2 linked regions of the Homo sapiens genome follow. The protein of the gene in region 1 purifies or fractionates together with the protein of each later gene. This does not show direct contact. Each region holds a gene or a part of one and is shown in the gene's direction. Other genes may lie near its edges.

What was found.
Region 2: the proteins of SAP130 (region 1) and SUDS3 purify together in Homo sapiens (affinity purification with western blotting; 3 studies listed by BioGRID, with this or other methods). This does not show direct contact.

Annotation. Positions count from the first base shown.
Region 1 is NC_000002.12:127,978,904-127,995,069, reverse strand, and holds part of SAP130 (histone deacetylase complex subunit SAP130), read left to right. Parts: intron 1-1,761; coding exon 1,762-1,883; intron 1,884-5,203; coding exon 5,204-5,506; intron 5,507-8,107; coding exon 8,108-8,285; intron 8,286-16,166. UniProt on the Homo sapiens protein: Acts as a transcriptional repressor. May function in the assembly and/or enzymatic activity of the mSin3A corepressor complex or in mediating interactions between the complex and other regulatory complexes.
Region 2 is NC_000012.12:118,375,138-118,391,303, forward strand, and holds the start of SUDS3 (sin3 histone deacetylase corepressor complex component SDS3), read left to right. Parts: upstream 1-1,417; 5' UTR 1,418-1,554; coding exon 1,555-1,696; intron 1,697-5,024; coding exon 5,025-5,094; intron 5,095-5,832; exon of another isoform or gene 5,833-6,551; coding exon of another isoform or gene 6,552-6,697; intron 6,698-6,722; exon of another isoform or gene 6,723-8,247; intron 8,248-8,874; coding exon 8,875-8,930; intron 8,931-10,976; coding exon 10,977-11,048; intron 11,049-12,267; exon of another isoform or gene 12,268-12,908; coding exon of another isoform or gene 12,909-12,960; intron 12,961-14,789; coding exon 14,790-14,809; intron 14,810-15,988; coding exon 15,989-16,145; intron 16,146-16,166.

The DNA of each region.
Region 1 (16,166 bases):
CCCATAAAGAACCCTATACAGTATACACAAAGTAGTTTCAAAAACAGGTTATTGTTAAGTGTTCTAATTTGATCATTTGTGTCTAGGAATGCTTACAGATTTTGATACATTGATATGTCCATCCCCCTTGTTGAATACTCCTGTTAGCTCTAAATGTTTATAGATTCTCTAAATAATTCTGTAAATTAGCTCTAAATGTTTATAGATTTATGAATTTCCTATGTACATGTTTATTTTGCCTACAAATAAGGACAGTTTGAGGGGAAAGCAAGAGGGTCTTATCATTTTCATTTGTTTTTATGTTTTGTTTTTGAGACAGGATCTTGCTCTGTTGCCCAGGCTGGAGTGCAGTGGCACCATCATAACTCACTGCAGCCTCGACTTCCGGGCTCAAATGATCCTCCCACCTCAGCCTCCCGAGTAGCTGGGACTGCAGGCACATGCAATCATGCCTGGCGAAGTTTTTTTATTTTTTGTAGAGATGAGGTCTCACACTGTTGCCCAGGCTGTAGTGCAGTGGTGCAGTCTCGGCTCACTGCAATCCCTGCCTCCCAGGTTCAAGTGATTCTCATACCTCAGCCTCCTGAGTAACTGGGATTATAGGCGTGTGCCACCACACCTGGCTAATTTTTGTATTTTTAGTAGAAGACGGAGTTTCGCCATGTTGGCCAGGCTGGTCTTGAACTTCTGGCCTCAAATAGCCTGCCTGCCTCAGCCTCCCAGAGTGCTCAGGCTGGTCTCGAACTCCTGAGCTCAAATGATTCACCTGCCTCAGTCTCCCAAAGTGCTAGGATAGCAGGCATGAGCCACTGTGCCTGGCCTACTTCTATTTTCTTAGGCATTTATATCATGAATAACTATTGACTGCTGTCGAATATTTTTATCTTTTAGGTTTTAAATTATTGTTCTCTTTTAATTTTTAAAATTTATCTAAAACATGAATAGACATTTTGATGTTGAAGTATTTCTCTCCCTATGATAAACTTTATTTGATCATGATGTATTTAACTTTATATGGTACTTAATTCAATTTTATGTAGGTTTTTTTGTTGTTGTAGTGAGTTAGATTTGTTTATAATCTTTCTTTTGTCATATTCTCCTGTTCCAATATTAGTAACAAGGCTATATTAAGCTCAAAAACTAAACTAGGAGCCAGGTACGGTGGCACATGTCTGTAGTCCCAGAATTCAGGCAGCTGAGGCAGGAGGCTTGATTGAACCTAGGAGTTCAAGGTTATAGTGTACCATGATTGTGCTGGTGAATAACCACTACGCTCCAGCCTGGGCAACATAGCAAGACCCTGTCTCTAAAAAAATAAAAATAAATTGGATCCCATTTTTTCTTTCCATTGTTTCTGAAGCAGTTTGAATGAAATTGGGATTATTTGTTTTATGTATTTTTAATGAAATTGGCCAGTAAAACCAATTTGAGTTGAGTGTAGTTCATGAGGAATTGAGCAGGGAAGATTTGATTACTGAGATTTTGTGAACTGGTTTTCAGACTTACTCTCAAAAATCACCCATAGAATATTATCTATGTTTTTACATTTATTGATATAGGTATTTATAGTATCCACTTTTTTTTTTTTTAATTTTGCATTCTTGGTGTGTGTCCTGTGATGTAAGAGTTTGTTTGGGACACAATTTGAGCAAAGCTTGTTTGACAGTTCTGAAGGACACAAAGAGGAACTGGGGTATAGGATCATTTGAAAGTAAAGAAGAAAATGACTATTTTGTTTGCTATCATCTGTTCTGTCTCTAGACCGTCTGTTCCCGTTCAGTTCCAATATTTTTTGCCAACTTACCCCCCTTCTGCATACCCACTGGCGGCACATACCTACACCCCAATCACCAGTTCCGTGTCCACTATCCGACAGTATCCAGGTATGAGCCCTGCTTTTTAGATGACTTTTCACAGTTTAACTTTTGCCAACAATAATGTAGAAATTGATGAGGGGTTATTTTTTGTATGAGATTAATTATTTCAGCTTCTGTTTTCAGATTCAGATAAAATGTGAAGCTTGAAGGTCTTAAATAATCATCTTTGTGATCTATAAAAGTTGTTACTCATTAGTGATATTTGCATAGTATTATGCCACCCTGAGGATACTCATGTTAACAATTTTTGTTACTCCTTAAAATGACAGTAGTTACAATGAATAGAGCTGCACTTTTATAGGGTTTCCATTGTTTTATGCAAATCTTGGCTATATTTTTAAAAAATTTATAAAGGTTTGTTTATAATAACTTTTACTTTAGGTTCCATGGTACTTGTGCAGGTTTGTTATATTGATAAATTGCATGCACAGGGATTTGGTGTACCAGTTATATGTTTTTTAGTTGTTATGCTCTCCTCTCATCATGATGACGTGTGAATAGTGTTCTTTTTGCTAATCCAGGAAAAACAATCCTTAAATGTCAGAGTCTGTGTAGTCTTTTACTGTGGAACCCTCAGGTCACTCTGGGCATCAGAAAGCCTTATTTCCAGCCAGGTGCAGTGGCTCATGCCTGTAATCCCAGCACTTTGGGAGGCTGAGGCAGGGCAGGCAGATCACTTGAGGTCAGGAGTTCGAGACCAGCCTGGCCAACATGGAGAAACCCTGTCTCTACTAAAAATACAAAATTAGCCAGGCACGGTGGCACATGCCTATAATCCCAGCTACTTGGGAGGATAAAGCAGGAAAATCACTTGAACTTGGGAGGCGGAGGCTGCAGTGAGCCACTATTGTGCCACTGCACTCCAGTCTGGGTGACAGAGTGAAACTATCTCAAAAAAAAAAAAAAAGCCTTATTGCCTGGGGCCGGGCGCTGTGGCTGATGCCTGTAATCCCAGCACTTTGGGAGGCCATGGTGGGCAGATCACTTGGGCCCAAAAGTTTGAGACCAGCCTGGGCAATATAAGGAGACCCCATCTCTACAAAAAATTAAAAAATTAGGTGGGCATGGTGGTGCGTGCCTCTAGTCCCAACTACTAAGGAAGCTAAGGTGGGAGGATTGCCTGAGCCTAGGAGGTTGAAGCTGCAGTGAGCCATGATGGCGCCACTGCACTCCAGCCTAGGTAACAAAGTGAGAGCCTGTCTCAAAAAAACAAAAAAGACAAAAGAAAGTGTTATTGCTGCCTGGATTGTGGACATTGCCCTCCTGCCACACGGTGCTATATGGCAGCCAGCGGCATGTGTGGCCACAGAGCACTTGAAGTAGATTAGTACATGAAAAACTCGATTGTTAATTTTGTTTAATTTCAAGAAATTTCAAGTATGTTTGGAACAACTTAGCAATGCAAAACTACTTTTTCAGTTGTAGGCTTTATGAAATCAAAATACAGATTAAGCATTTCTGATAAAAATTCATGAGATGTACTCGAAGAGTAAAATATACCCTAGATTTTGAAGACATAATATAGAAAAGAGAATGTAAAATATCTTGTTAAGAATTTTTAGGCCAGGTGCGGTGGCTCATGCCTATAACCCTAGCACTTTGGGAGGCTGAGGAGGAAGGTCGCTTGAGACCAGGAGTTTGAGATCAAGCTAGATGAGACCTAGTCTCTACCAAAAATACAAAAATTAGCCAGGCATGGTGTGGTGCGTGCTGTAGTCCCAGCTGCTTGGGAGGCTGAGGCAGGAGGATTGCTTGGCCCCAGGAGGTTGAGGCTGCAGTGAGCCATGTTGTTTGCACCACCGCACTCAAGTCTAGTCAAGAAAGCGAGACCCTTGTCCCAAAAAAAATGTTTATTAATGACATATTGAAATGGTAATATTTTGAATATATTGGGTTAAATAAAATATATGATCAAAATTAATTTGGTCTGTCTCTTTTTTTTTGAGACGGAGTTTCACTCTGTTGCCCAGGCTGGAGTGTAGTAGTGTGATCTTGGCTCACTGCAACCTCCACCTCCCAGCTTCAAGTGATTCTCCTGCTTCACTGTCCCCAGTGGATAGTATTATAGGTATGCGCCAGCACACCCAGCTAATTTTTGTATTTTTAGTAGAGATGGGGTTTCACCCTGTTGACCAGGCTGGTTTTGAACTCCTGCTCTCAAATGATCGCCTGCCTCGGCCTCCCAAAGTGCTGGGATCACAGGCGTGAGCCACCGTGCCTGGCCTGTTTCTTTTACTTTTTTTTTTTTTTTTTTGAGACAGTCTTTCTCTGTCACTCAGGCTGGGTGCAGTGGTGCAATCATACCTCACTGCCTCCTCAAATTCCTGAGTTCAAGGGAATCCTCCCATCTCAGCCTCCTGAGTAGCTGGAACCACAGGCATGTGTTATGATGCCAAGCTAATTCTTTAATTTTTTATAGAGATAGGGTCTTGCCATGTTGCCCAGGCTGGTCTCCAACTCCTGGGTTCAAGCATTCCTCATACCTCAGTCTCCCAAAGCGTTGGGATCATCGGTACAAATCATCACACCGGGCTGTTTTTACTTTTTTATTGTAGCCACTGGCAAATTTAAAGTTGTGTGAGTGACCCACTATGCCATTGAACAGTGCCGGTCTAAAATTTCAAACATTGTAAGATACTTGTTTATTTAGGGAAAAGGTAGCTTATAAGTGTAAGATATTTAAATAGCTTTGAAAACAAGTTCCAACATCTCTGGATTGTTTTGATGACTGAGGAAAAAGTCCTCTGTGTTTATTTTCTTTCCACAGATAGTAAGAAATTCCTCCTTTTTTGTTGCTTTCTGTGAATGCTCTTGTTTTCTTTTTTTTTTTTCAATATACACAGTAGATGGGGTGTTTGCCTTGTAAGACACAGGACACTTGCTTGTTCTCTGTTTCTGGTGGATACATGCCATTTGAAATTCATAACTACTGTATTTCAAAACCACCTGTGATAGTGGCCCTATCAATTAAAGCAGAGGTTCTTGACCTGGGACCTCTGGGTGTATTTCTGACGTTTTATATTAATTATTTAGCATGGTTTCCTGGCTAATATTTGCAATTTAATAGCTGATTGCCTTTTTTCTTGTTTTAATCATATTTCTAGTAGTCTGTAGAAAAACAACATCATATTGGTAGGAAGTGAAAGGAAATAACAATCCCAAGTATAGTAAGTTTCAAGTAACAATGTTTATTTATTTATTTTTTTTCAAACCATGGATTTAGATCTTATACAGTGGAGGAAATCCGTTTTTAGTGTTTCTCTCTTTATGTGGACTGTGTGAAATGAAGCTAACCTTCTTATAGTTACCTTTCGCATCATTTTTAGTTTCAGCTCAGGCTCCAAACTCTGCCATCACAGCTCAGACTGGTGTTGGGGTAGCGTCTACCGTCCACCTAAACCCCATGCAGTTGATGACAGTGGATGCATCGCATGCTCGACATATTCAAGGGATCCAGCCAGCACCCATCAGTACCCAGGGTATCCAGCCGGCCCCCATTGGGACCCCAGGGATACAGCCTGCACCACTTGGCACACAGGGAATTCACTCAGCAACCCCAATCAACACACAAGGGCTTCAGCCTGCACCTATGGGTACTCAGCAGCCTCAGCCTGAAGGAAAGACTTCAGGTAATTTTAAATTTTTGCATAGAAGGTGGTTTGGAGAAAAGAAATACATTTGGGTTTAAATCCTTTCTCTGCCACTGGCTTTGTCGTCTTATAATTTCTCTAGGCCTTTTCTTCTTTGTATTAATAATATGAGTTGCTTAGAACTTAGAGTTTCAGGGTCACTGTAAACGTTAGAAATAATATACCTCACTGTAATCCCAGCACTTTGGGAGGCTGAGGCGGGTGGATCACGAGGTCAGGAGATCAAGACTATCCAGGCTAACGTGGTAAAACCCTGTCTACTAAAAATACAAAAAAATTAGCCAGGCGTGGTGGCGGGGGCCTGTAGTCCTAGCTACTCGGGAGGCTGAGGCGAGAGAATGGCGTGAACTGGGGATGTGGAGCTTGCAGTGAGCCGAGATCACGCCACTGCACTCCAGCCTGGGCCACAGAGTGAGACTCTGTCTCCAAAAAAAAAAAAAGATACAGTATACATCAACAGCCCTAGTATTCATTTGAACATAATGAGAAGTGTTATCTTTTTTAAAAGCTCCTAGTTGTGGGAAAAAATTCACCTTATAAGTAGTATTCTCATTGAAGATTTTCTTCAGAGTTGTACATAAAGCTGTAAAACCTTATGCTGATGTTAGCTAATATTATGAATTCTTAAAAAGAAATACTAGTGGAATAACATTTTGAAAAATGGAATAAGTCACTGTATTTAGATCTTTTTGAGACAGATTCTCACTCTGTCACCCAGGCTAGAGTGCAGTGGTGTGTGATCTTGGCTCACCACAGCCTCATCCTCCTGGGCTCAAGTGATCCTCCCACCTCAGCCGCCTGAGTAACTGGGACTATAGGTGCAAGCTACCATGCCTGGCTAATTTTTGTATTTTTAATAGAGACAGAGTTTTGCCATGTTGCCCAGGCTGGTCTCAAACTCCTGGGCTCAAGTAGTCTACTCACTTTGGCCTCACAAAGTGCTGGGATTACAAGCATGAGTCATTACACCAGCTAGGTTATTTTTTTTTTGGCTGAATTTAAGATTCCATGTACTTGGATTATTATTGATTAGCCATTTCTCTAATGTAGTTTAAAAAAACAAAATGGCTGTTTCTCAGCCAAGGCACTGATTTTTTTTTTTTTTTTTTTTTTAAAAAGACAAGGTCTCACTCACTCTGTTGCCCAGCTGGAACACAGTGGTACAATCATGGCTCACTGTAGCCTTGACCTTCTGGGCTCAAGCAGTCCTTATGCCTCAGACACCCGTGTAGCAAGGACTACAAGTGCATGCCACCACACCTGGGTAATTATTTTTGATTTTTTGTAGAAACAGGATATTGCTTGTTGCCCAGGCTGGTCTCGAACTCCAGAGTTCAAGCTATCCTTCAGCCTTGTCCTCCCAAAGTGCTGCGATTGCAGGCATCAGCCACTGTGCCTGGCTGGAGCTATGAATTTTAATTGTTCTGTAGACCTTGAATTCAACTATTTAATCAAAGTCTCTCTGATTTTTTATTACTAAACTAAATGTCTATGATAGAGATGCAATTTACCCATGATGACCCACCCGGTAGGATGGTGTACTACATATTTAAGGGCACCTGCCAGAAAACTCATGATATTAAGTTGACTCCTATGAAATTGCCATTTTTATAGGTCAAAAACTGTCAAACACAGGTATTTTCTGATTATGATCTCATGCTCACCAGTATTTTGATGCTAACTTTAAGTGTATAGTTAAAATATCTGTTAGTTGAATGTGTTTCTAAAGATAGACTGGGGAGGGTACCATTATTGAGGGTTGAGAGAGATTGGTATTTTACAAAAACTGAATGAGTACATTTCTTGAAGTGTACATTGGAGCATGCTATCAGGCTGGTAGATAGTGTTTTCTATTTGTGGCTCTTGTATTAAGCCTTTCTTGTCTGTCAGTTTTCTTATCTCTAAAATGGAAATTACAATGATGGTAAGAATTATATCAGTAAAAAATGTAAAGTAACTAGTAGAGTGAGAGACTATACTAGATACTATGTACTTTGTTCACCTTATCTCATTTATTAGTAACTGTGATTATAGAGCAAAGAAAAAATAATGGTATGGGCCAAGTGTGGTGGCTCACGCCTGTAATCCCAGCACTTTGGGAGGCCAAGGCAGGTGGATCACTTAAGGTCAGGAATTCGAGACTAGCCTGGCCAACACGGTGAAACCCCGTCTCTACTAAAAAATACAAAAATTATCCAGGTGTGGTGGTGCACGCCTGTAATCCCAGCTACTCTTGTGGTTAAGGCAGGAGAATCACTTGAACCTGGGAGGTGGAGGTTGCAGTGAGCTGAGATTGCACCACTGTATTCCAGCCTGGGCAAGAGAGCAAGACTCTCTTTCAAACAAAGAAAAAGAAAAAATAATGGTATGGATCATGCATCAGTAGACTTAGTAACTGCTCCCATTTAGCTATCTGCTCTTTGTCGGATGAACATTGTGCTCCTGTCCCTTATCAGTTTGAAATTGGACAGTTAGAACATGGATACCTAATTCTAGTGGTCTCATCATTTTTATTTATGTCTTCTATGGCATTTTGTTTCCCTCTCTTCAATGTTCTTTCCTGTTGCCTCTCTCCTGTAGCAGTGGTGTTGGCAGATGGAGCCACAATTGTGGCCAACCCTATTAGCAATCCATTCAGTGCTGCTCCAGCAGCAACAACCGTGGTGCAGACCCACAGCCAGAGTGCTAGCACCAACGCTCCCGCCCAGGGCTCATCGCCACGGCCAAGCATACTCCGGAAGAAACCTGCCACAGATGGGTGAGTAGACCTGGTAGTGCCGAATGACACCTCTGGTTCTGGATATAACTGGTATACATAATAGGCACTCTTATCTAATGCTGGTATCAAACTCATCTCTCATTTTCTGTGGTGTGTTAAAATTTCCTCCAAAACAACTTGACCACAGGATTATTCAGTAGAGCCTTACCCAGCTGAGACTGTAAGATCTTAACAAATCCTGGAGTCAGTGAGGTGTTAGTTTGTAAGCATCTGTTGCATACTGCTTTAATTCTCTCTAGTTCTGGAACTTCAATCATAGAACTTTTAAAGTAGTTTATAAGTAACTCTTGGGCTTGTGTAGGTAGTTACCTTAACTCATACTATAAACTTCATTCAGCATGAATCGTTGCTGTTGAAACGGGAAAAGTTCCCTTGTCCCCCTCGCAGGGCGTGCAACAGTGGGAGTGGCTCGCTTCTTCATTGCCCTGCTACTCAAACCTCTAGGGGAGCATACAGACAGGCAGGCTGTGTCGCTCCAACCCTACAGCAGTGTCTAGAGGTGAATGTTTACAGCTGAAACCCCAGTGGGCATGTGTTACAGAGTGCTCTTTTAGTTTAGCCATCCATAGATGGCTTGCATTAACCAGCTCAATTAGACCCCTGCCTTATGGCAAGGACAGAGAGCTTTCTGTATCCCAGGGTTCTTGCCTTGGTGTACTGGAAGAATGGGATCACACGTGGGCTTGGAGAATGAGTGTAGGGTTTTACTGAGTAGAAGTAGCTCTCAGCAGATGGGGGAAGCCAGAAGGGAGATGGAGCGGCCCCAGCTCTCTTGACTGCCCTGGCCAAACTGCGTCGTTCTGCTGGTCGGGGGCCTGCTGGCATGCCAGCGTCTGTCATGTGCTCTTCCACCGGCATGCTCCCCTTGCTGTCCTCTCGCCGTCCAGCTGCTTGTGTCTTTTGCCAATGCGTTCCTCTTGACGTCCAGCCACTTGTGTGCCTGTCTGCTAGGGTCTCGGAGGTTTTTACAGGCACAGGATCAGGGCGTAGCAGGCCAGGGTGGTCTGGGGGAAATGCAACATTTGGGCAGGAAAACAAAAATGCCTGTCCTCACCTAGATCCGTGGGCACAGGCTGGGGGTGGAGCCCTCACCAGGGACCCGCCCCTTCCCAGCACTTCCCTACTCCCCTTCTATGTCACTGTGGGCAAACAAATTCTGAAGTGTAGTAAGGGTCATATTTGGTAGCAGATAGTGTTTTGTGTTGCCATGTAAGCTTCTCAGTTGGTGGATCATAGGCAGGAAGGTATGTGCTGTGCTGTTTGAGTTAAACATTCTGGAGGTGGGAGATGAGCAGACATGTTTCAGAGAGCAGAGTTTCTGTGGCTCAGCTGAGCTAATAGCATCAACATCAAAAGATTAAAGCAAGTGCAAACTTAAATTGCTGGGACTAGGGTCCATGCAGGGTTTTTATTTGCACAGAGCTGTGCATATACCAGAGTCCCTATCTTTGCTGTTTATGAATACTTTGTACTTTTTTAAAGGATAAGTCAGTCCATGACAAAGTTACCTTATTAGTAAAAACACAAGGCAAAGCTTGTGGTTAAGATGACAGATTGATTACACACATCTAAAATCTTTCTGTCTCATAACCCTATATAACTTTTTTTCAAAAAAGTTGTAAACACACAAGGATGGGGAGAACAGGAGAGGACACAGTAGCAACTGAAGCTGGGAAGCAGACCATCACGCGATGGCGTCCTGGCTCTGAGAAAGCTAAATGTGAAGCTTGCGTAGGGGAAAGTTGAGAACCATCCTCTTTTAAAATTGGAAAATCTTCAAAAGGACCAACAACAGGCAAATCCTGGGGGCGAAGGAAGGGGCTCTGTCCTTTAAGGAGGATAAGTTAAAACCTTTGAGTTTGAAAAGTGTTAAAGTTAGAGCCCAGAATCCCATTTTCTACCTATGCCATGTGGTGTACTGCCCCTTCCCGACTTTAGCAGGAGCCTGAAAGTTCAAACTCTGCAGATGGTCCGCTAGGGTCACCCAGCACTATAGAGGTCATGAGTATTTTACCAGAAAGAGATTGTGACTCACCGTGTGTGTGTGGAGTGCTGAACACTTCCCAGTCCACTCCCTGCTTTCAGCTGATAGAACTCTGGCAGGTGAACTTGATTCTAGATAGAAAATGAGAAGAGGACTCTACTTTCCTTCTGGGGAGTCTATCCAGCCCAAGGGGAAGCTCTAAAGATACTGACACTAGGGCTTCCTTAAGGACAGGGTTAGATTACCCTACAGTGGACCTCATAGTAGACATGCCCTTCCAAAGCTCAGAGCTCCCAGCCAGCATTTCAGTCCCTCTCCCCGACTCTTAATCATGAACATACAACCAAAGATAGGCACATATCTGAGGGGACCTCTAACGGTGGAAGACAGAAACCACAATAAATACATGCCCAAAGCACCTTGGAAGATGTAGAGGCCTGGCAGGGAGAATAAAACACAAAACAAATGAGCAAGGATAAGCAAACAGTATCCGTGATGCCTTCAGAAAGACAAAAGAAAAGGTTGCATCCACAAAACAGTAACACAGTGCTATGCAAAAAGAACATTCAGAGGAGAAAAGAACCGGTCCTGAAATAAGATAGCAGAAATTGAAAGATCAGTAGAAGAGTTGGAAGATAAAATTGAAGAAATCTCAAACGTGGAACAAAAAGACAAGAAAATTGGAGAAAACGATAGGAGAAAATTTAAAACAACAATAAAAAGAACCAGGTCAGGAAATCCAGCCTCCAGGTAATGGGTTTCAACAAGAGAGATCAGAGAAAAGGAACAGGGATTACAAAGTAAGGAGTTTGTTATAATATTGTAATCTCAGTTCAAAAGTTAACTGCAAATATAAAACCCAATGATTTCTATATAGTAAATTGAACTGTAAAGGTAACTTGTGTGTGATTCTGAATACATAGATAAATGTTTAAAAAAAAAAAAAAAAAAAAAAACAACAAAGTAATAGAAAATTACCAAAACTGAAAGAAATGAGTTTCCTGGTTACAGAAATGCCCTGCACAGTATTCAATGGATGCAATAAACTCAGGCCAGTATTTTGAAATTTGGCAGCACTGGAGACAAAGAGATGTGCCTGCTTCTCCCGTACTTCCTCCCAAAGACCCTTGTACTGTGCCCTCTAATTCACAGCCTGTCATCACATGACACTCCAACCTCCACCCCAGTGCCCTTGTCTCTTCTTTCTCCACGCCTTCTTGCTTTAAACCTGGGACTCAACTTGCCCTGCAGCTGTCTAAAGTGGTCCCTGCCTCTCTTCCACATCCCTACTGTCACTCAGCCTGGAGGTAGGCAGGGTGTCCTTGTCATGCCTCACTGCCATTTTCAGACCATTTCTCCTCAAAAGCACTTGATCTGTATTTAGATTTCATAAAATGTACAGTTGAAAAAGTAGTTTCACATAGCCAAGTTATTCCAGACAATAAAAAGTTTCTCAGTAACTGGATCGAGTATCCATTATAAAATTCAAATTAATTAAAATGAAATAACATTAAAAATTTTGTTCCTGAGTTGCGCTTGCCACATTTCAGTTGCTCAGTAGTACCATATGGCCTTCTTGTTGGGCAGGGCAGATCTAGAGGCGCAGAGTCAAGTTAGATTTTGCAGGTGTATCTGTATGCCTTTTGGAAGGACATGATGTCTGGCACTTTTTAGTGATAGTGGAACCCTCTCTTCACCTTTAATGATCAGAAATGATTTTCCAGCTCCCTGGCCCCTCAGGTGCTTGAATGCTTCTCCTGCCTCCACCCTCCCCACCAGTTTGGGCACTTAGCACATAAGCTCAGTGAGCCTTCCTGACCTTGTCTCTGTGCTCCCATGCCCCTAGCCCATCTTCTTTCTTCCCACCTCCCTCCCAATGGAACTCCAGCTCCAGAGGGACCCCAGCAGCCTCCAGTCCATTGATCCACCTTTTCATGTTCTTCACTGCCTCTCATGGCCTCTTTCTCTGCTCTTCCTGATTCAGAGTCTGTGGTCACTTGCAGTCATTTCCTTAACCCCCATCCCACTTCGCTTTGTCAAAACCAGACTTAAATCCAACTTTCTGCTTCATTTACGCTGGCACATGTACAGCAAATTGCAGCAGGGAAAGCCACTTTGCCAACTGGTCTTGCTTAGCCTCGCAGACGCACTAAGGTCTTAAAGCAGCCCATCAAAGTATACTCTCTTGCACCACTCCAGATAACTATTTTACGTTTCCTTCTCTCAAAACTCCCAGGCTTCTTCCGTCTTCACTGTTAGTCGACAAATTGCTCCTTTTTTGAGAAAAAGAAAATCAAAAGACAACTTCCACAGTCTGCAGCTATCACATCTATAATACTTACGGTGGCAGTACCCCATGTCCTGCCTCTGTCTGTTCCTCTAGACAAGCTCTATGGGCTCCTCTCCAACATGCCCTGTCTCCTCCTCTCTTGTCTATTCAAGAATGATGCTCTAGTTCTTCTCCCCCTCTCTCCTACGGCCTCAGCTTTTTCTTGTTAGTAGATCATTCACATAAACAGTATAAACATGCCGTCATTTCTTCTGTATGAAATATCCTTCTGTTGAGCTCACTTTGCTCTACTATCTACCACCCTAAATTTTTTTTTTTTGCTCTTCTTTGTAAAAAGAAATTGTCTGTGTTTGCTGTGTCCAGTTCTTCTGTCCGTCTTTTTTTCATCATTTTCATGGAAGTATATAGAAAATGTCACAGACGCATGTATAGTCTCAAAATAAACAGTGTCCAACCACTGTATAGGTCAAGAAACAATGTTACTGTAAGGTCAGCCAAGAGAAAGGATGAGGAGACCCAAAGTCAGGCAAGCAAGCTTTATTGAGCTGCTTGGCTGCTCCACCACAGTTAGAGGAGGCAGCCCCCCTTACAGACTATAGCAGGGTTTTGTAGGGCCAGAACTGGGTCGGGGTCGGGGAGCTGAGTCGGGTGCAAGAGGACTGGGTCGGGGTGGGAGAGCTGAGTCGAGGGTGCAGGAGGACTGGGTCGGGGTAGGGGAGCTGAGTCGGGGTGCAGGAGGACTGCGTCGGGGTGAGGGAGCTGTCGGGGGTGCAGGAGGACTGGGTCGGGGTGGGGGAGCTGAGTCGGGGGTGCAGGAGGACTGGGTCGGGGTGGGGGAGCTGAGTCGGGGGTGCAGGAGGACTGGGTCAGGGTGAGGGAGCTGAGTCGGGGGTGCAGGAGGACTGGGTCGGGGTGGGGGAGCTGAGTCAGGGGTGCAGGAGGACTGAGTCGGGGTGGGGGAACTGAGTCAGGGGTGCAAGAGGACTGGGTCGGGGTGAGGGAGCTGAGTCGGGGGTGCAGGAGGACTAGGTTGGGGTGAGGGAGCTGAGTCGGGTGCAGGAGGACTAGGTCGGAGTGCGGGAGCTGAGTCGGGGGTGCAGGAGGACTGGGTCGGGGTGAGGGAGCTGAGTCGAGGGTACAGGAGGACTGGGTTGGGGTGGGGGAGCTGAATTGGGGGTGCAGGAGGACTGGGTCAGGGTGGGAGTGCTGAGTCGGGTACAGGTGTCTTTACCCGCATCCTGGAGATGTTTTTTGCCAGCTTTGTTGTGCGAGGTGAACAGACATGTTAACCGCATCCTGTAACTGGACAGTTACTGGAGGGGTCAGTGAAGGGTGGGGTGGGGGTTTGTCTTTTGCCCTCGGGTAGCTGTGAGGAGAGTGCAAGGGACTGTATTGTAAGGCCTGTGGGAGGGGAAGGAAATGGTCTGGTCGTGGTGACCTTAACAGTTACCAACATCTTTTCCCAAAGGTAACTAACCAATGGATAGATAGAATCATATGATGTGCATTTTTTTGTGTGAGTCTGACTTTCATCACTCGGTTTTATGTAATTCATCTGCATTATTGCCTATGAATTTGTTGTTGTTGTTGTTGAGATGGGGGTCTCACTCTGTCTCCCAGGTTGGACTGTGGTGGCGCGATCACAGCTTACTGCAGCATTTACCTCCCCAGGCTCAGGTGATCCTCCCACCTCAGTTTTTGTATTTTTAGTAGAGATGGGATTTCACCATGTTGCCCCGGCTGGTCTCGAACTCCCGGGCTGAAGCATTCCACCTGGTTCAGCCTCCCAAAGTGCTAGGATTACATGCGTGAGCACCTGGCCTTGATTGTAATTTTTTAATTGTATAAAATACCATGTATAACAGTACCGTGTTTTATCCATGGTTATTTGGGTTGCTTCCATGTTTTCCTGTAATGATACCCTGAACATTTTTGTGCATGACTTTTGATTCATGCATGAGTACGTTTCTGTTAAATACTGAGGGATTTGCTATGTCATAGGGTGTGCTTGTTTTAAACTTTCATGGAGCATGGTTTTCTGCGTGGTTTTACCCATTTACACTCTCACCAGGAGTAATCATTGTTTCATCCTCACCAACACTTGTTCTGGGCAGTCTTTGTGAGTTTGGTCATTCTGTCGGTTTATAGTGATGTTTCGCATTAGGTTCTTTTTTTTAAATTTGTTTTTGGTTTGGTTAGTTTTTGGCCAGTGTTGGGGGTGGGAGGGTTGGCAGCAATGCAGTTGGTCTTGCTTTTTTAACTTTTATCCTTATTTTTGTTATGGAAAAGTTTAAACATAAGAAAATCCTGTGGCCAGGCACGGTGGGTCAAGCCTGTAATCCCAGCACTTTGGGAGGCCAAGGCGGGCAGATCATCTGAGGTCAGGAGATCGAGACCAGCCTGGCCAACATGGTGAAACCCCGTCTCTAGTAAAAATACAAAAATTAGCTAGGGCATGGTGGCAGGCACCTATAATCCCAGCTACTCGGGAGGCTGAGGCGGGAGAATCACTTGAACCCAGGAGGCGGAGATTGCAGTGAGCTGAGATCGTGCCACCACACTCCAGCCTGGACAACAGAGCGAGACTCTGTCTCAAAAAAAAAAAAAAAGAAAAAAATTTTGAACATAGGAATATATGCCTGTCACCCAACTTTAGTTCTCAGCTTATCAGCTCTTGGCTAATTTTGCTTCACCTATATGCTTACCTACCTGCTCGTATCATATTATTTTGAAGCAAATCCTAGATACCATGTCATTTCATTTGTATGTATTTCAGCATGTTCCTATGGAGAGATACATAACATTAAAAAACCAATAACCCCTTAATATCAAATAGCCAGTCATTGTTCAGGTTTCCAATGGTCTGAAATGTCACACAATTTGTTATATTTTATATTATCTATTTGAATGAGTATTCTGATAAGATGCATACATTGTGATTAGTTAATATGACTTTAAAAGCCATTTTATTATCGAGGTTTCCTCTATCTTTTTTTTTTCCTGCAGTTTATTTGTTGAAGAAACTTGGTCTTCTGGGCCATACCCCCTCTGGATTTTGTTGATGGCATCCCCAATGTATTCATTTCCTAGGGCTGCTGTAACAAACTACCATAAATCTTCTGGCTTAAGGCAACAGACATGTATTATCTTATAGTTCCAGTAGCTAGAAATCTGAAATGAAGGTGTCATCAGGGTCAGTTCCCCCGGAGGTTCTCAGGGAGAATCCACTTGTGCTGGCTGCCAGTGGCTGCTGTTGATCTTTGTGTTCTTTGGCTTGCAGGCACAGCACCCCAATCTCTGCCTCCGTCGTCACATGGCCTTGCCCTCGTACCTGTGTCTCAAATCTCCCTTCCCTTTCTGTTACTAGGATACTTGTCACTGGATTTTAAACTAAACTCTACATCCAAAACTCTACATCTAAATGTAATTAAGAATCTCTTATCTTGAGATCCTTAATTACATTTGCAAAGGCCCTTTTTTCAAGTAAGGTCACATTCACAGTTACTAAAGATTGGGACTTACATGTATCTTCTTAAAGAACTCAGTTCAACTGACTGCACCCGTAGAGTAATTTCACTTGTTCTAT
Region 2 (16,166 bases), on another chromosome or scaffold:
GGAATCCTAGTTTAAATATAGATGGCAGACCTACGGTGCGATCTGAGAATGATTCTTATTTAGAAGGGGCTTCAGAAGATCTCAGAACTCCTGGAAAGACATCTTAGCATTCCATTCTGGAAATTCTTTAGTTTTGTTGGGAGAAAAAATCACTTACAAATAGAGCCAAGATTTTAATTAAAACAAGGTAGTAAATAAATGTCAAAATAAGTGGGATGAGAATAACGTTTCATTTTCAGAAGAGTCCATAGGGAACAATTCAGAGATAAATTTAATCACAAAAGGTCTGAGAATGGGAATATTCGGTTCCACCCTGGTTTTCACATCTGTTCATTTTCACTACTGGTTGCGTTTCCTACGGAGACTCGGGTGGAACATAAAAGTGGGGCTACTTTGGACAAACCATTAAAAACCTTACCCTTTTTTCTCGCTACACACAACTAGACCACATTGCTCTTAGCTAAAGGGACACCTTAAATCTATTCGTTCAGCAAAACTTATAACACCGTGTTCCTTTTCTACTCAGAGGGAATCGCACAAATTAATTCTTGCAGATACTCAGCTCTCCTGTTTTTTAAGCTTCCACGTGGGCCTTAGCCAAATAACTTCTGGTAGGCAAATTCTCCCCTTCTTCAGTTGAGAGCTCAGAGCAAGCTGTTGGATTAAGCAAAAGCACCTTTTAAAAAATTAATATTCAAGGCAGCTGTACCGCGGAGGGCCTGGGTCTCGGAGTCTAAAAAATCAGACTGGACGTTACTATTTTTTTTTAGGCAAACGACAGCTCGTTTCTCATTTGTAAAACCGGGGGAACATCTTACCGAATAAACCTTACACAAACAGAAAGGATTCCTAAGGGCTGGGAAAATACTATTTTGCTGTCCCCAGGATGGAATATCAGCATCCTTGTCTTTTAGCTCTTAATAAAGCTCTAACTAGTCACAGGAGGAGCCAGGCTGCATGATCACGCACACTCTGGACGTCTAGGTTTTCCGACCTAATAAGGGGGCAGGTCGCGTCGTTCCCTGCTTAAATTAGAGACCACCTCCACCTGCCAAGGGCCCTTCAAACCCTCCGCCCCTAGGTCGCTAACGATCACCGCTTTAGTTCTAGCTCCAGGCGCCGCCTGGCGGCTGTCTCCGGAAGTCGCCTGCGAGCCTCGGGGTCCTGACCGCTGCTGGGCCTGCCCGTAGATTTGCCTGACTCTAGCGAACCTGGCTCCGCCCCTCCCCCACTATACGTTGAGGATTTTAAGACGGCGATGAAAGGGCTGAGGTTGTGGCGACGGGGGCGTCCAGCGGCATCTCCACTCCCCCAAGGATGGCGGAATCAGGCCGTTGTCGGGCAGCTCTCGACCCGGAAGTCGCTCGCGGCGCGAGGCCCCCGTTGCCGAGCGCGGGCGCGGGGGGCGGAGCTCGGCGGAGACGGGGAAGGGGTCGCCGTGGCTGCCGGTCCTCGAGTTGGGGGCTGCCGCGGACACTGCTAGGCAGACGGCGAGTACCGAGCGCGGGTGGCCGCGGTGTCCGTGGGCCACGCTCAGCTGCGGTCAGAGGCGACATGAGTGCCGCGGGGCTGCTGGCCCCGGCCCCGGCCCAGGCTGGAGCGCCGCCGGCCCCCGAGTACTACCCCGAGGAGGATGAAGAGCTGGAGAGCGCCGAGGACGACGAGCGCAGCTGTCGGGGCCGCGAGTCGGACGAAGGTGAGTCCTGCCGCTCGCCCGGCCGCCCGGAGCGGAGGTGGGACCGCTGGGGGAGGGGGTGGGGCTGTTCGGGAGAGGGGCGGGGCGGCCTCCGGGGCCTGGGGCTGCGTGGAGGGGCCGCCGGGAGTTGCGGGGCTCGGGGAAGTTACCCCCATCCGTGCTGGAGTAGCGGGGAAGCCCTGGGTGCGTTACACTCGACCGTGATGGGGAGAGGGGACTTAGATGTTGTCACGCTGGGGGTCCCTTTAAGACCCCGTCCTCCCTCCCAGCCGTTTCTGATTGAACCTCACTCACTAGTAGGAATTAGAAACTCATTTACTGAATACATCGAGTGTAGTTCGCCCCTTTTTTGTGTGTGAGAGCATCAGAGTCCAAAGTTGCCCCTCCCCACCCCCGAAATGCATAAGTCATCTATACTTTAGGTAGTACACTATTGAGAACTCAGGTTGGTTAAAGGAAAGGGACCTAGAACCAGCCAGATACAGGTTTAAATTTGGCTTTGTCACTTAACTCAGCTTTGTAAACTTAAGTTTTCCAGCCTCGATTTACCCAACTGTAATGGAGCTGTTTAATTCCCACACCTGCCCTAGAAGGCACTTCCTAGGGTCGGTATAGGGATTAAATGACATGCGCATAAAGTACTTGGCCTGGTACTGTAAATACTCCGTAAATGTTCTCCCCACCCGCCCCCCTCCCGGAAACAGGTAAGAGAGGGAGAGATTTGCTTAATGGTCCCCAGGTGTTGTGTTTTCAGTCCCACGCTCTTTGCACTGTCATCACAGAGTCTCAGAGCCTTGCTTTTCAAACTGGGCTTTATAATTTGGCAAGTGTGAGGAACGCTATTTTGGAGGGATGGAGGAGGAGGAAGGTGATGAAATGTGAGAGATCAAGGGAGGAGAAATAGGAAACAAAGAGAGACCGATATATGAGCGGAATATTCTGGGACAAAATCGGGCCGTGGAGCAAAAGCTAGACCAGCTGTTTGGAATGGGGCCTACGTTTTATTCATCTGAGTTTCCCGAGTGCCAAGTAATGTGGCTGACCATGACAGGAACTCAGGGAAGGCCTCTTGACTGAAGGAGGGGAGAAGGGTTTGTGGGGAATTGGATCTGCAACAGCCTTACAAAAGACAGCTGCATATGCATGACATACAAAGTTGAGGGACTGCATTCGATTTAATTCCATCAGAAGACACGGCTTAACCAGAGATTTTGAATGTGAAGCACTTGCACTTCATCTCATACCCACGAGGGGGCGCTGTGGAGCCAAAATTGAGTTTTTTTTTCCTTCCAGTATAGGGGCTATTAAAATTTTGTACACACCCCAGCCATTAGCTTGTTCTAAGAACAATGTTTAAGATGTTCTGAAACAGTTTTCGTTTGATCATCTGGCCTCCTCCTTGTTCCCTTTAGTTGTAACTTGGAAAATATTTATTTGTGTCAGATTCCCCTTTTTTATTGTATACAGTTGGCTCTGCGTATCTGTGGGTTCTGCATCTGTGAATTCAACCAAGCGCAGCTCAAAAATATTCAGGAAAAAAATTGGATCTGTACTGAACATGTGCAGACTTTTTTTTTGTTATTCCTAAACAGTGTAGCGTAACAACTACTTACATAGTATTTACATTTTATTGGATATTGTAAGTAATCTTTTTTTTTTTTTTTTTAAGATGGGGTCTCACTCACTCACCCAGGCTGGTGTGCAGTGTCACGATCTCAGCTCACTGCAACTTCCATCTCCTGGGTTCAAGCAGTTCTCCTGCCTCAGTCTCCGGAGTAGTTGGGATTACTGGCACCTGCCACCATGCCTGGCTAATTTTTGTGGTTTTATTTGTTGTTTTGTTTATTTTATTTTTTTTTGAGATGGAGTTTCACTCTTGTTGCCCAGGGTGGAGTGCAATGGCGCGATCTCGGCTCACCACAACCTCTGCCTCCCGAGTTCAAGCAATTCTCCTGCCTCAGCCTCCTGAGTAGCTGGGATTACAGGCATGTGCCGCCACCCCCAGCTAATTTTGTATTTTTAGTAGAGACGTGGTTTCTCCATGCTGGTCAGGCTGGTCTCGAACTCCCGACCTCAGGTGATCCACCTGCCTTTGCCTCCCAAAGTGCTGGGATTACAGGCGTGAGCCACTGCACCTGGCCCTAATTTTTGTGTTTTTAGTAGAGATGGGGTTTCACCACGTTGGCCAGGCTGGTCTGGAACTCCTGTCCTCAGGTGATTCTCCTGCTTTGGCCTTCCAAAGTGCTGGGATTACAGACATGAGCTGCCATGCCTGGCCTGGATATTCTAAGTAATCTAGAGATGATTTAAAGTGTACTGTTGGCCTGGTGCAGTGGCTCATGCCTGTAATCCCAGCACTTTGGAATGCGAAAGCAGGTGGTTCACTTGAGGCCAGGAGTTCGAGACCAGCCTGGCCAACGTGGCGAAACCTCATCTCTACTAAAAATACAAAAAGTAGCCGGGTGTGGTGGTGCACCCCTGTAATCCCAGCTATTTGGGAAGCTGAGGCAGGAGAATCGCTTGAACCCAGGAGGTGGAGGTTGCAGTGAGCCGAGATTGTGCCACTGCACTCCAGCCTGGGCGACAGAGTGAGACTGTGTCTCATTAAAAAGAAAAGTATACTGGAAGATGTGCGTAGGTTATATGCAAATACTATGCCATTTTGTCAGAGACTTGAGCAGCTGAGGATTTTGGTATCCACGGGAGGTGCAGTAACCACTCCCCCACGGATACTGAGGGACAACCGTGTATCCTGATGTAAAATGTGCGAAGGGTTCCAACTGGGTATGTATCAGAAGAGAATGTACATACTAGTTTTTTTCTGGAGCAGCGAGTAAGGCTTGACTGCCTGCAGTGTCCAGTCTTACGCCTGCATCTCCTTTCTTGAGTTGCCAGCATTGTTGTTTCTGCAGAAGTAGCAGCCTTCACCATAACTGCCTGTGCCTGAGACACCCTATTCTGTGGCTGCATTTCAGGTAAAGGCAAGCTTTTTGCATAAATCTGACTGTAAGTTGGAAATGGCCTTTTCTTTTCTGAAGTACGGCTGTCCCTCGGTATCTATGGGGGACTGGTTCCAGGACTTCATGGATACTACAACCTGAGGATACTCAAATTCTTTGCATTGGCCTTTTGTGTCCACAGGTTTCGTGTTTGCAGATAGGGATGGCCTACTAACTGTATGTAATGTTTTTCATTGATGGCTTTGTGCAAGCCTGCCTTGAATAGAAATTGATTTTACGGGAGTTTATTGAGTGCATACTCTGTGTCAGGTGACGCCAACTCCGTGAATTATGATTTTAACTAGCCCCTATTTCCTAACTTTATTCAGACACTGAGGATGCTAGTGAAACTGACCTGGCAAAGCATGATGAAGAAGACTATGTAGAAATGAAGGAACAGTGAGTATGATATGCCTATGTCTTTTTGGAACATAGAATTGACAACATCTTTATATAGATTGAGCATCCCAAATCTGAAATCTCAGATGCTCCAAAATCTAAAACTTCCTGAGTGCCAGCATGATGCTCAAAGGAAATGCTCATTGCACTATTTCAGATTTCAGATTTTTGGATGTGGGATGCTCAGCTGGTAAGTATATTGCAAATAATCTAAAATTTGAAAAAATCCAAAACACTTCTGATCCCAAGCATTTCAGATAAGGGATACTTAATCTGTAGTAACCTTGTGTGTATGAGTTTGACCATAGCGCTTCCAAAGACCATGTATGTTTACAATTTCTCCACTTTAAATTAATTACATTTAATCAGTCTTCCCGTTATAAGACTTTGTTGAGTACTCTCTAGAAAGAATCTTGAGGGCAATGGACCCAGGGGAGGGAATGAGGCCGTACAACAGGAGAGGACCTTTTACTACTTACTCTTTTTTTTCCTTGAGACAGAGCCTTGCTCTTTCGTCCAGACTGGAGTGCAGTGGCAGGATCTCCTCACTGCAACCACCGCCTTCCGGATTCAAATGATTCTCCTGCCTCAGCCTCCTGAGTAGCTGGGATTACAGGTGCACGCCACCACGCTCAGCTAATTTTTGTATTTTTAGTAGAGACAGGGTTTCACCATGTTGGCCAGGCTGGTCTCGAACTCCTGAGCTCGTGATCCGCCCACCTTGGCCTTCCAAAGTGCTGGGATTACAGGCGCGAGCCACTGCGCCCGGACCTTTTTTTTTCTTTTCTTTTTTAATGGGCAAACCAATGCACAGAGAGGGTAATTGTTGTCTTGAAGCAATTGGGTTCTCAGGTGAGTGTAAACTCACTGCACTAATGTGCTAGACAAGGTGCCGGAGGCCTGGAGAGCTCAGAGAAGCCACGATTGAAAAGCAGGCTGCTGACTCTTATTTATTTATTTATTTATTTTTATTTGTTTAATTTTTTTTTTTGAGATGGAGTCTTGCTCGGTTGCCCAGGCTGGAGTGCAGTGGTGCAATCTTGGCTCACCACAACCTCCACCTCCCAGGTTCAAGTGATTCTCCTGCCTCAGCCTCCCAAGTAGCTGGGATTATAGACATGCACCACCATGCCCGGCTAATTTTTGTATTTATTTATTTTTTTTGTGTGGAGATGGAGTGTCGCTTTGTTGCCCAGGCTGGAGTGCAGTGGCCTGATCTCGGCTCACTGCAACCTCTGCCTCCTGGGCTCAAGCAATTCTCCTGCCTCAGCCTCCCGAGTAGCAAGGACTACAGGCACATGCCACCATGCCCGGCTAATAATTTTCGTATTTTTAATAGAGACGGGGTTTCTCCATGTTGGCCAGGCTGGTGTCAAAACTCTTGACCTCAGGTGATCCACCTGCTTTGGTCTCCCAAAGTGCTGGGATTACAGGCGTGAGCGACCCTGCCTGGCCACATGCTGACTCTCAGGCCAGTGCTCTGTCCACGTTTGCACCTGCTCTCACCCAAACCTTCTCATTGTCTTCAGACAGAGCCACAGCCGAACAGATTCAGAGAAACGAAAACCTCACTCACTTTTAGCGTACACCCAGATGGAAAACGGTATAAAGTATATTTAATGTATATTTGTTGAATGTGTTAGGTTTTTAAAGTTCTTTACCTTTTAACAGGATGATCCACATTCATTTCCCTTTAGGTCCTTTTTGCAAATGTTTTGTGGCCATCCTCTGGATTCTCACATTGTTTTTGTGCTTTGGAACTCAAAGGGGTAATTCAGCTAGGTCTAACCAGTGCTGAATAAAGATGGATTACTTTTTTTTTTTTTGAAACAGAGTCTCACTCTGTCACCCAGGCTGGAGTGCAATGGCATGATCTCGTCTCACTGCAACCTCCACCTCCTGAGTTCGAGTGATTGTCATGGCTAAGCCTCCTGAGTAGCTGGGACTACAGGCATGCGCCACTACGCCTGGCTGATTTTTTTGTTGTTGTATTTTTAGTAGAGACGGGGTTTCACCATGTTGGCCAGGCTGGTCTTGAACTCCTGACCTCAGATGATCTGCTTGCTTCAGCCTCCCATCGTGTTGAGATTACAGGCCTGAGCCATCGTGCCAGGCCACTTTTTTTTGAGACAGTAGCCACTTTTTTTTGAGACAGTATCTTGTTTTGTTGCCTGGGCTGGAGTGCAGTGGCATGATAGCAGCTCACTGCAGTCTCAACCTCTGGGGCTCAATCCATTGATCCTCCCACCTCAGCCTTCCAAGTAGCTGGGACAACAGGCACGTGCCACCACGCCCAGCTGATTTTTAAAATTTTTAGTAGAAACTAGGTCTCACTGTGTTGCCCAGGCTGGTCTTGAATGCCTGAGCTCAAGCATTCCTCCTGTTTCGGCCTCCTGGAGTGCTAGGATTACAAGAATAAGCCAATGTGCCCAGCCTTTTTTTTTTTTTTTTTAAGAGACAGGGTCTTGCTCTGTCGCCCAGGCTGGAGTGCAGTGGCATGATCTCGGCTCACTGCAACCTCCAGCCCCTGGGTTCAAGCTATTCTTCTGCCTCAGCCTCACGAGTAGCTGGGATTACAGGCGCCCACCACCACGTCTGGCTAATTTTTTTTTTTTAAGTAGAGACAGGGTTTCACCATGTTGGCCAGGTTGGTCTCGAACTCCTGACCTCAAGTGATCCACCCGCCTCGGCCTCCTAAAGTGCTGGGATTACAGGCGTGAGCCACCTTGCCTGGCCTCCCTTAGTATTTGATGATACAGAAAAAATTTCGGTTAAAATGGAATGCCTTGTGTAATTCAAGGGGAAATCTAAAGTGCATCAGAATTTGCCCTGAAAGAGTGAGATGTGTGTGAGTCTCAAATTCTGCCTACTCTCCTCCCCTTACAGAGGGTTGGGTTGTATTTGCAGCCCTTATTTGAGCGCTAAAAAGGTTATCACGCCCATGTGCTCACTTCAGCAGCACATATACCAAAAGGTTATTGTGCTTGTTATATGTTGGACAGTGTTCTTTCAGATCACAAATCTTGTTTTTATCACTGTTAAATTGAGGGTGTTTTTCAGGTAGAAGCAAAAATACTTGCTGAAATGTGATTTATATGTGGAACCCACCTTCAAACCAACTTGCTGAAGTTATGACTGCCTATAATCCATTAGGTGTGAGAGGAAAAAACTAACATGCCAAATGCTTTTGCTTCGTGTGTGCTGTGTATTCCCATCCAGCTGGGGCTGCCAGTAAATGCTGCCTTTTAACTTTTCTTTCTGAATTACTATTATTTCTCTGATCCTAAAAGAGTAGTGCTTTAAAAAATGACATGAAGGTTTATTGACTTAGTTCTTACACTGCTAAGCATATCTGCATAGAAAAACATGCTGAAGGCATAATCTTACTCTCCTGTAACTTACAATCTAATTGTAGAGTTGATGTAAGAGTTGTGTTTAATGCCATTTCTACATTGTGTGTGTGCTTGCCTGTTTATAATTGTCATTTATTAAAATCTGCTATCGTTGCAAGTTTTAGACGGATTCTGTAAAGATGGGATAACATGGGAGAATCTACAAAATTAGAATAAGATTGAGGAACACAGGGTTCTTTCTTGTTCCTTTCTGATCCCTGTGGCTGCTGGTGCATTTTAAGCCAGCAAGCAGACTTTACTTTCCTCTCTTCCCTGAAGGACATTAATGACCTTCCCATAACAGCCCAGCTAATTTCTGTGAGTAGGTTATTTTGGAATTGAGTATTGAATGTTTTTATCTGTTAGTGTGACTTTTTTTTTTTTATAGGATGTATCAGGACAAACTGGCTTCTCTCAAGAGGCAGTTGCAACAACTGCAAGAAGGTTGGTGTGTGATTGAATCCTGCATTTCTAAATATGCTTCTTAATATTACAAACCCTTGAAATCTGTGTATTTCACTTCTCTGTGGGAGTTATTTAAAACACGGTCTGGCTGATCTTAGCTATCCAGTACATTTTGCTATCTTTTGCTGTCAGTAAAGTGGTGATTTTCCAGCTCCTTGATTTTGAAACATTTATTTCCAGTATGTGTGAGATTCTTTCTTCAAATGAAATCTCACTTGGGACTTTCAATGGAGCACGAATTGAACGCCACTGTGCCTAAAGCTAGAGATTTTTAGGAGAGACATTGTTATCAAAGAATAAAGTTTTTACTGTTTTTTCTAAACCAAATGTTAATGACCTTGTGGATTATTCACACTGTGTTTTCTCCTTTTTGCTTGTTACATTAAAAGTAGATTGTATTTTGTCAAATGCTGCTAGCTGCTAAAGGCAGTGCAGCATCAGAGTTAAGAGTGCAGGCTGTGAGGCCAGGCGCGGTGGCTCACACCTGTAATCCCAGCACTTTGCGAGGCCGAGGCGGGTGGATCACGAGGTCAGGAGATCGAGACAATCTTGGCTAACATGGTGAAACCCCGTCTCTACTGAAAAATGCAAAAAATTAGCTGGGCGTTGTAGTGGGCACCTGTAGTCCCAGCTACTCTGGAGGCTGAGGCAGGAGAATAGCGTGAACCTGGAGGCGGAACTTGCAGTGAGCCAAGATCGTGCCACTGCACTCCAGCATGGGCGACAAAGCGAGACTCAGTCTCAAAAAAAAAAAAAAGAGTGCAGGCTCTGGAGTTTTGTGAGGGATTGGAATCCCAGTTTCCCTGCTTCTAGTAATGTGACCTTGGACATGCCAGTTTCTCTTGTTTAATCTGTTTTCTGATCTGCAAAATGAAGCAAGTAAGAGTAGATGTGATTATGCATGAGGAGCGTCTAGCACAGCAGTGTGCACACTGCAAGGTCCTGGGGACAGTTAGCTGTGGCAGTGAGCTCTTCGGTTTCATATTGTGGAGTCCCCTTGTCAGTGAAACTGTTTTTGCTTTTCTTTTTTTTTTTTTCGAGGCTGAGTTCCGCTTTTGTCACCCAGGTGGAGGGCAGTGGCGCGATCTCAGCTCACTGCAACCTTCACCTCCTGGGTTCAAGCGATTCTCCTGCGTCAGCCTCCCGAGTAGCTGGGATTACAGACGCCTGCCACCAGGCCCGGCTAATTTTTGTATTTTTAATAGAAACGGGGTTTCACCACATTGGCCAGGCTGGTCTTGAACTCCTGAACTCAGGTGATCCGCCCACCTCAGCCTCTCAAAGTGCTGGGATCACAGGCATGAGCCACCATGCCCAGCCTGATACTGCTGTTTCTACTATGTGCTTTTATTGCTGGTGAGTGATCCACGCCCTTGGACTAGCCCATGGTCAGGCATTATAATCAGGAAACACTTCCCCCCACAAGATGGGCCCCTCATAATTAACTGTTTTGTGGGAAGAGCAATGAAATGAATAGCGATTTGGTTAGAATCTATACCTGAATTGTTTAATGCTGTCACTAGCCACATGTGGCTGTTTAAATTTAATTAATAATTTAGTTCTTCGGTTCCACTAGCTACATTTCAAGTGCTAAAATAGCCACAAATGGTTAGTGCCTGCCATGTTGGACATTGCAAATATAAAACACACCATTGCAGAAGGTTCTACTGGAGAGCGTTGACCTAGACCTTACTGAAGGAGAATGAACCTTTTCCAGTAAAGGAAGGCCCGTTGATTCAGACTGTTGCAGCAACTGATCAGAATAGTGTGGAGATATTGGCAATTTTCCACTCCCCCTCACTCACTACAGACCCTTGATCCACTGGGTTGGGTAGACTTTGAATGGGCCCCTAGTGGTTTCTGCTGTGTGCCTTGGTTAAGAACCAGAGTTAACTTTGCTGAGGTGTGTCTTCCTTTGGTGTTACTGAAACAGTCAGTGTTGATGCTAGATAATAATTTTAGGAAGCAAAATGTAGAGCAGATTTATATTCACAATAATTTTATTTTTCAAATGTTCAAAATCAGGTACATTACAGGAATATCAGAAGAGAATGAAAAAACTAGATCAGCAGTACAAAGAGAGGATACGGAATGCAGGTAAGGCTCCTTTAAATGGCAATGAATCATCTTTCAATGTTTGACCATTTGCCGATCGTCGGTGTAATGCAGCCCTAAGAGCTATTCTCCAAAACATATCCCAGATACTCTGTCAGGGAGAGTTTTCAGAAAAGAGACTTCCAAGCTGCAGTTATGGAAAGTGGTTTCATCTTCTGCTTCTGTTGCTAAGGAATGGCCCAGAAGTGGAGGGTGTCTGAGGAGGCTCCTTGGAGTTAGGTTGTTCTCCCTGGTACCCCAAGAGTAGTCTTGCACCCTCTTGCTCATTTCTGCATGGCTGGCCTGATGTACAGTCAGAAGTGCGGATGAGGAAAAGGATTGTAGGTTGTTTTTGTCCCATTTTAAGTTTTTTTTTTTGGTATTTTGTGCTAGGATTGGGGAGGGTCTTCTTGTTATTTTCCCCAAGTATTGTTTTTATAAGAATTTAGAGAAAACGCACACTTGATTAGTTGTATACAGTAAATGTATTCATTCAACAAAAATGAATTGAGCACCTGCTACATCTAAGCACTGCGAGCAATATAAAGTCATGTAACACATTGCTTTGACTTTAGGACACTTGGTGTTTCATTGACAAAAGATACCACATGTATAACGTGTAAAGTTAAGGAACACCGAGTTAAAGAGCCATGCAGAAAGTAAGATGTGACAACTGTTTAAAGTGTGTAAACATGGATTCCTGAGGTTACAGGAAATCGCGTGTATGTGTTGAATTTTTAACGCTCATCATCAGCCAGCAGTTTGGGTGCCAGCAGAGTCCTTGTTCCTGCGATGGTAGAAGTAATGATGGGTTTTAAAATGAGGGTTGGGTGCCACTCCTCATGCTGCTGTCATCTTTCATTCTGGGCCAGTGACTCTCCAACGCTTCACTGTGTCTCCTCAGTGAGAAGCTGCCCAGTGCACACCAACAGAGAGAAAAGGGGTTGAAGTGTGGGTGGGCGCTGAGAAAGTGGAGCCCCAGCTATTAGCTGTCTGCCTTTCCACCTTCTACCTCTCCCTGCTGTTACCCCCTTTCTACTCTGAGTTCCTGAAGCACCTCCTTGAGATGTCTTGAAAATCCTCAACCGGTTGCTCTTCCTAGACTTCCCTTTTAGCAGATAAAGGAGGTGGCATTTGTGGAAGGAGGTCCTGCCTCCTCACTTTAGATCTGATCCTTTAAGCAGAATATTTGCTCTTGAAACCTCAATTTCTCCATCTGTAGAGGGGAATATTAATACCTCATGGAACTGGCATAAGATGGAAGTAAGGAAAGAAAATGGATGTGAGTCATATTTCTGAAGTTAGAACAGCAGAGTGAGTATTGAGTTGTTTTTCTTCATTCTGCTCAGACTCTCAATCATGTCCTCATGTGTTCTTTTTTTTTTTTGAGACAGAGTCTCACTCTGTCACCCAGGCTGGAGTGTGGTGGCGCTATCTCAGCTCACTGCAACCTCCACCTCCTGGGTTCAAGCGATTCTCATGCCTCAGCCTCCTGAGTAGCTGGAATTACAGGCGCCTGCCACCACACCTGGCTAATTTTGTATTTTTAGTAGAGATAGGTTTTCACCATGTTGGCCAGGCTGCTCTCAAACTCCTGACCTCAGGTGATCCGCCCGGCTCGCCTTGGCCTCCCAAAGTGCTGGGGTTACAGGTGTGAGCCAACGTGCCCGGCCCTCATGTGTTCTTTCACATTTCTCTCTCCTAGGTAAAAATGCAGAAGAGCTCCTAAATCAGTCACGACTTGAGCTTTAAAAAGCACATTCTTTTCAGAGATGATCCACCTGCTTTAGTGGTGTCTGGCTGCTTTAACTGAAACAACTGCCACCTCTAAGTGCTAATTGTCATTTTGACTTGGTGCAAGGCATGATTTCTCGGAATGGCACAGGACTTCAGCTGTCTGGCCCACTTGTGCATGGTACAGATCTGAAGCTGTTATAGGAATGATCACATTGGGTTGGGTGTGCCTGGGTTCCTATGCCCAGCAATTCCCAGTGCCAAAGTGGGTAGGACTTCTGGGGGCTAAAAAATAATGAGTGGCTTGTCCCTTTCCTCAGTTAATTTTCTCTGTCAACAACTGTTAACATCTGGGCTTTTAATCTGGGGTTCCTAGAACTGTCAGAATTCTGTGGAGTTTGTATATGTGCTTTGTTCTGGGGAAGGGGTCCATAGCATTTGCCAGGTTTGCAAAGGGGCCCCTGGTAGACTGAGAATAGCACACCCTGGAGAATCTTTGTGGACTGTACGCACAGCCCCCTGTCACCCAGGAAAGAGTAGAAGCCATGGAGCAATTTTGCTTCAAGTTGCGGGTTTGTAGACAGGTTTGTGCTCTATTGTAAATCTAGTGGTGAGGGGAGCTGCTAGGTAACAGTTACTAATCATCCGGCACATGGTAGGTGCTAACTAAGTTGTTGAGTGCTGTTAGATGGGTGCTTTAAGGCATCTGAAGGGCATGATGTGTGAAGAGTCAGCAGGAAAGGCCTCAGGAGGGGGCTGCATTCAGTCAGGAACTTGGGAATGTGAATAGGAGGTCAGAGGGCATTGCAGGGACAGACAGCGTGAGCAGAGCTTGGTGGCCTGACAGTGAAGCCCCAGGTGTCCCTGGAGCCTCTGTCCTATGGATTATCTGTGGAGGTCCTTCCTTACCACATATAGCCCTTCATATAGTGCTTTAAAAAGGAGGTCCTGGCCGTAGGCAGTGGCTCACGCCTGTAATCCCAGCACTCTGGGAGGCTGAGGCTGGCGCATCACCTGAGGTCAAAATTTCAAGACCCTCCTGGCCAACATGGTGAAACCCCGTCTCTACTAAAAATACAAAAATCAGCCAGGTGTGGTGGTTTGCGCCTTTAATCCTAGCTACTTGGGAGGCTGAGGCAGTAGAATTGCTTGAACCCAGGAGGTGGAAGTTGCTGTGAGTCGAGATCATGCCACTGCACTCCAGTCTGGGTGACAGAGCCAGACTCTGTCTCAAAAAAACCAGAACCCCCCAGAAAACCAGGGGTCTCCATCCTTCAGGCTGCGGACCACTGGGCTGCTTTCCCCCACCTGCCGCCTGCCCCCCTACCCTGCCCCAGCCCGTGGGAGAATTGTCTTCCACCGAACTGGTCCCTGGTGCCAAAAAGGTTGGAGACCACTGCTTTAAAACATCACATCCACTCTGTTTCTGGAGTAATTGCATTATTTCTTCTTGACCCATCCTGCCACTGTGGAGACTGTTGGCGGGTGGACTGAGTGAAAGATGGGATAAGTTTATTTTGCCAGGGGAGTTTGGTTCCTGCTGCACGTTTTTTGCCCTCAGGCAGAACTGCCACAGCTGATATGTTCAGGGCCACATTTTTTTTTTTTTTTTTGAGACCAGGTTTCGCTCTGTCACCCAGGCTGTAGTACAGTGGCACAATCTCAGCTTACTGCAACCTCTGCCGCTCAGGTTCAAGTGAGTCTCCTACCTGCCTCAGCCTCTCGAGTAGTTGGGATTACAGGCGCCTGCCACCATGCCTGGCTAATTTTTATATTTTTAGTAGAGATGGGGTTTCGCCATGTTGGCAGGCTGGCAGGGTCACATTTTAACTAGACTTGAGTACTTGTCATGTCCTTTCCCTTCGTGTATATCAACATTTCACTGATGAAAACATTTGCTTTGTAACATGCTTTCAGAAAGCAATTACTGCTTCTAAATGAATGCTAACATCACTGTCTAGAAAGGTGGCACAGCCTAGCAAATCTAATTGCACTTTTTATCTCTTGCAGAACTCTTCCTCCAGCTGGAAGTAAGTACCACGGATCTTCTGGGTTTGCAGGCCCTGTCTGAGACTGGAATCTTGCAGTCCTGATCTGGTGGCTTTTCCTTCTATCACCAAGTAGATAGTTTGGAAGCCTTCACCACTGTTCTGTTTGACTTAAGGACATTTGGTCTCAGCTCAGACATCCTGTCTGGTCATTTGTTGTTGCGCAGCCTCTGCTTATCACAGGGGAATAAGGAATACTCATCCCTAACTGCTTATTGACTTCTATCCCGTGTTAGAGCTGTTTGGAAGTCTCTGAGTTATAACGGCCTAATAGTTTGATATTGGTCCTTGAAGCAGTTCAATCTCTGAATTGGCTCAGCAGTTCTGTTTTACAGCTGCAACTCTCTGGGCCAGTAAAAAAAGACAGATTTCTAATTTTTCCTTTCATTCCATGGACACCTGAGTGCTGGTTCTGTGTCAGACTCTGTGCTGTGATACAGAGATGAGGGCCTGAATCTTGAATGATGTACTGCTCCCAGAGTGGCTAGCATGTGTGTGGGGGTTACTTTTTGAGAAAGTCATGGTTTTTCAGAGCCACATTATTGGAACCCAGTTTCCTTAAATCAGTGTGGTGCCCATAGTCACTCAGCCAGAAGGATCACGTGATCAGCCTGAAGGTACACTCAAGTGAGGTACTCACATCCTTAGCCCACCATAGGCCCCTATGTCAGTCACCACAATGGCGAGATTTGAAAAGCGGAGGCATATACAATTTTTGTCTTAGTATAATATCAATATATGTATACTTTGGGGTTCAGGCACTTACTAAATGTTGTTCCATTCTTTTGTCTTGCTGTATCAAAAATAATAGTAACTTTTTGAATATACACAATTTATCTAGAATCTATTTTCCTTTGAAGCTGTAACTTTATGAGCGATTATTTACTACCTTTGAGAAATGTGTTTTAGTATAAAATATAGGATGTGGAAGCGAAAAAATATCTGGGTAGCAAGTGAGGTGTACTCAAAAATAAGCAAAAGTCACGTGGGTCTGATTTTATACCCTCGCTGGAAAGCTTGTTCTCAGACACACTGTTACTGCAAGTGTGTGTGAGGGGGAAACTCTCACACACTTTGCAGTTGAGGACAGGGCTAGACTTTGAGTTGGAGCCCTGGCTCCCAGGGCTGTGTACTCCCAGCCCGTGTTTCTCTTTTGCTCAGACTGAACAAGTGGAACGAAATTACATTAAAGAAAAGAAGGCAGCAGTGAAAGAATTTGAAGACAAGAAGGTTGAGCTGAAAGAGAACCTGATTGCTGAGCTAGAAGAAAAGAAGAAAATGATTGAAAATGAAAAGCTGACAATGGAACTGACTGGAGGTAGGAAAGCCCTATGGGGTG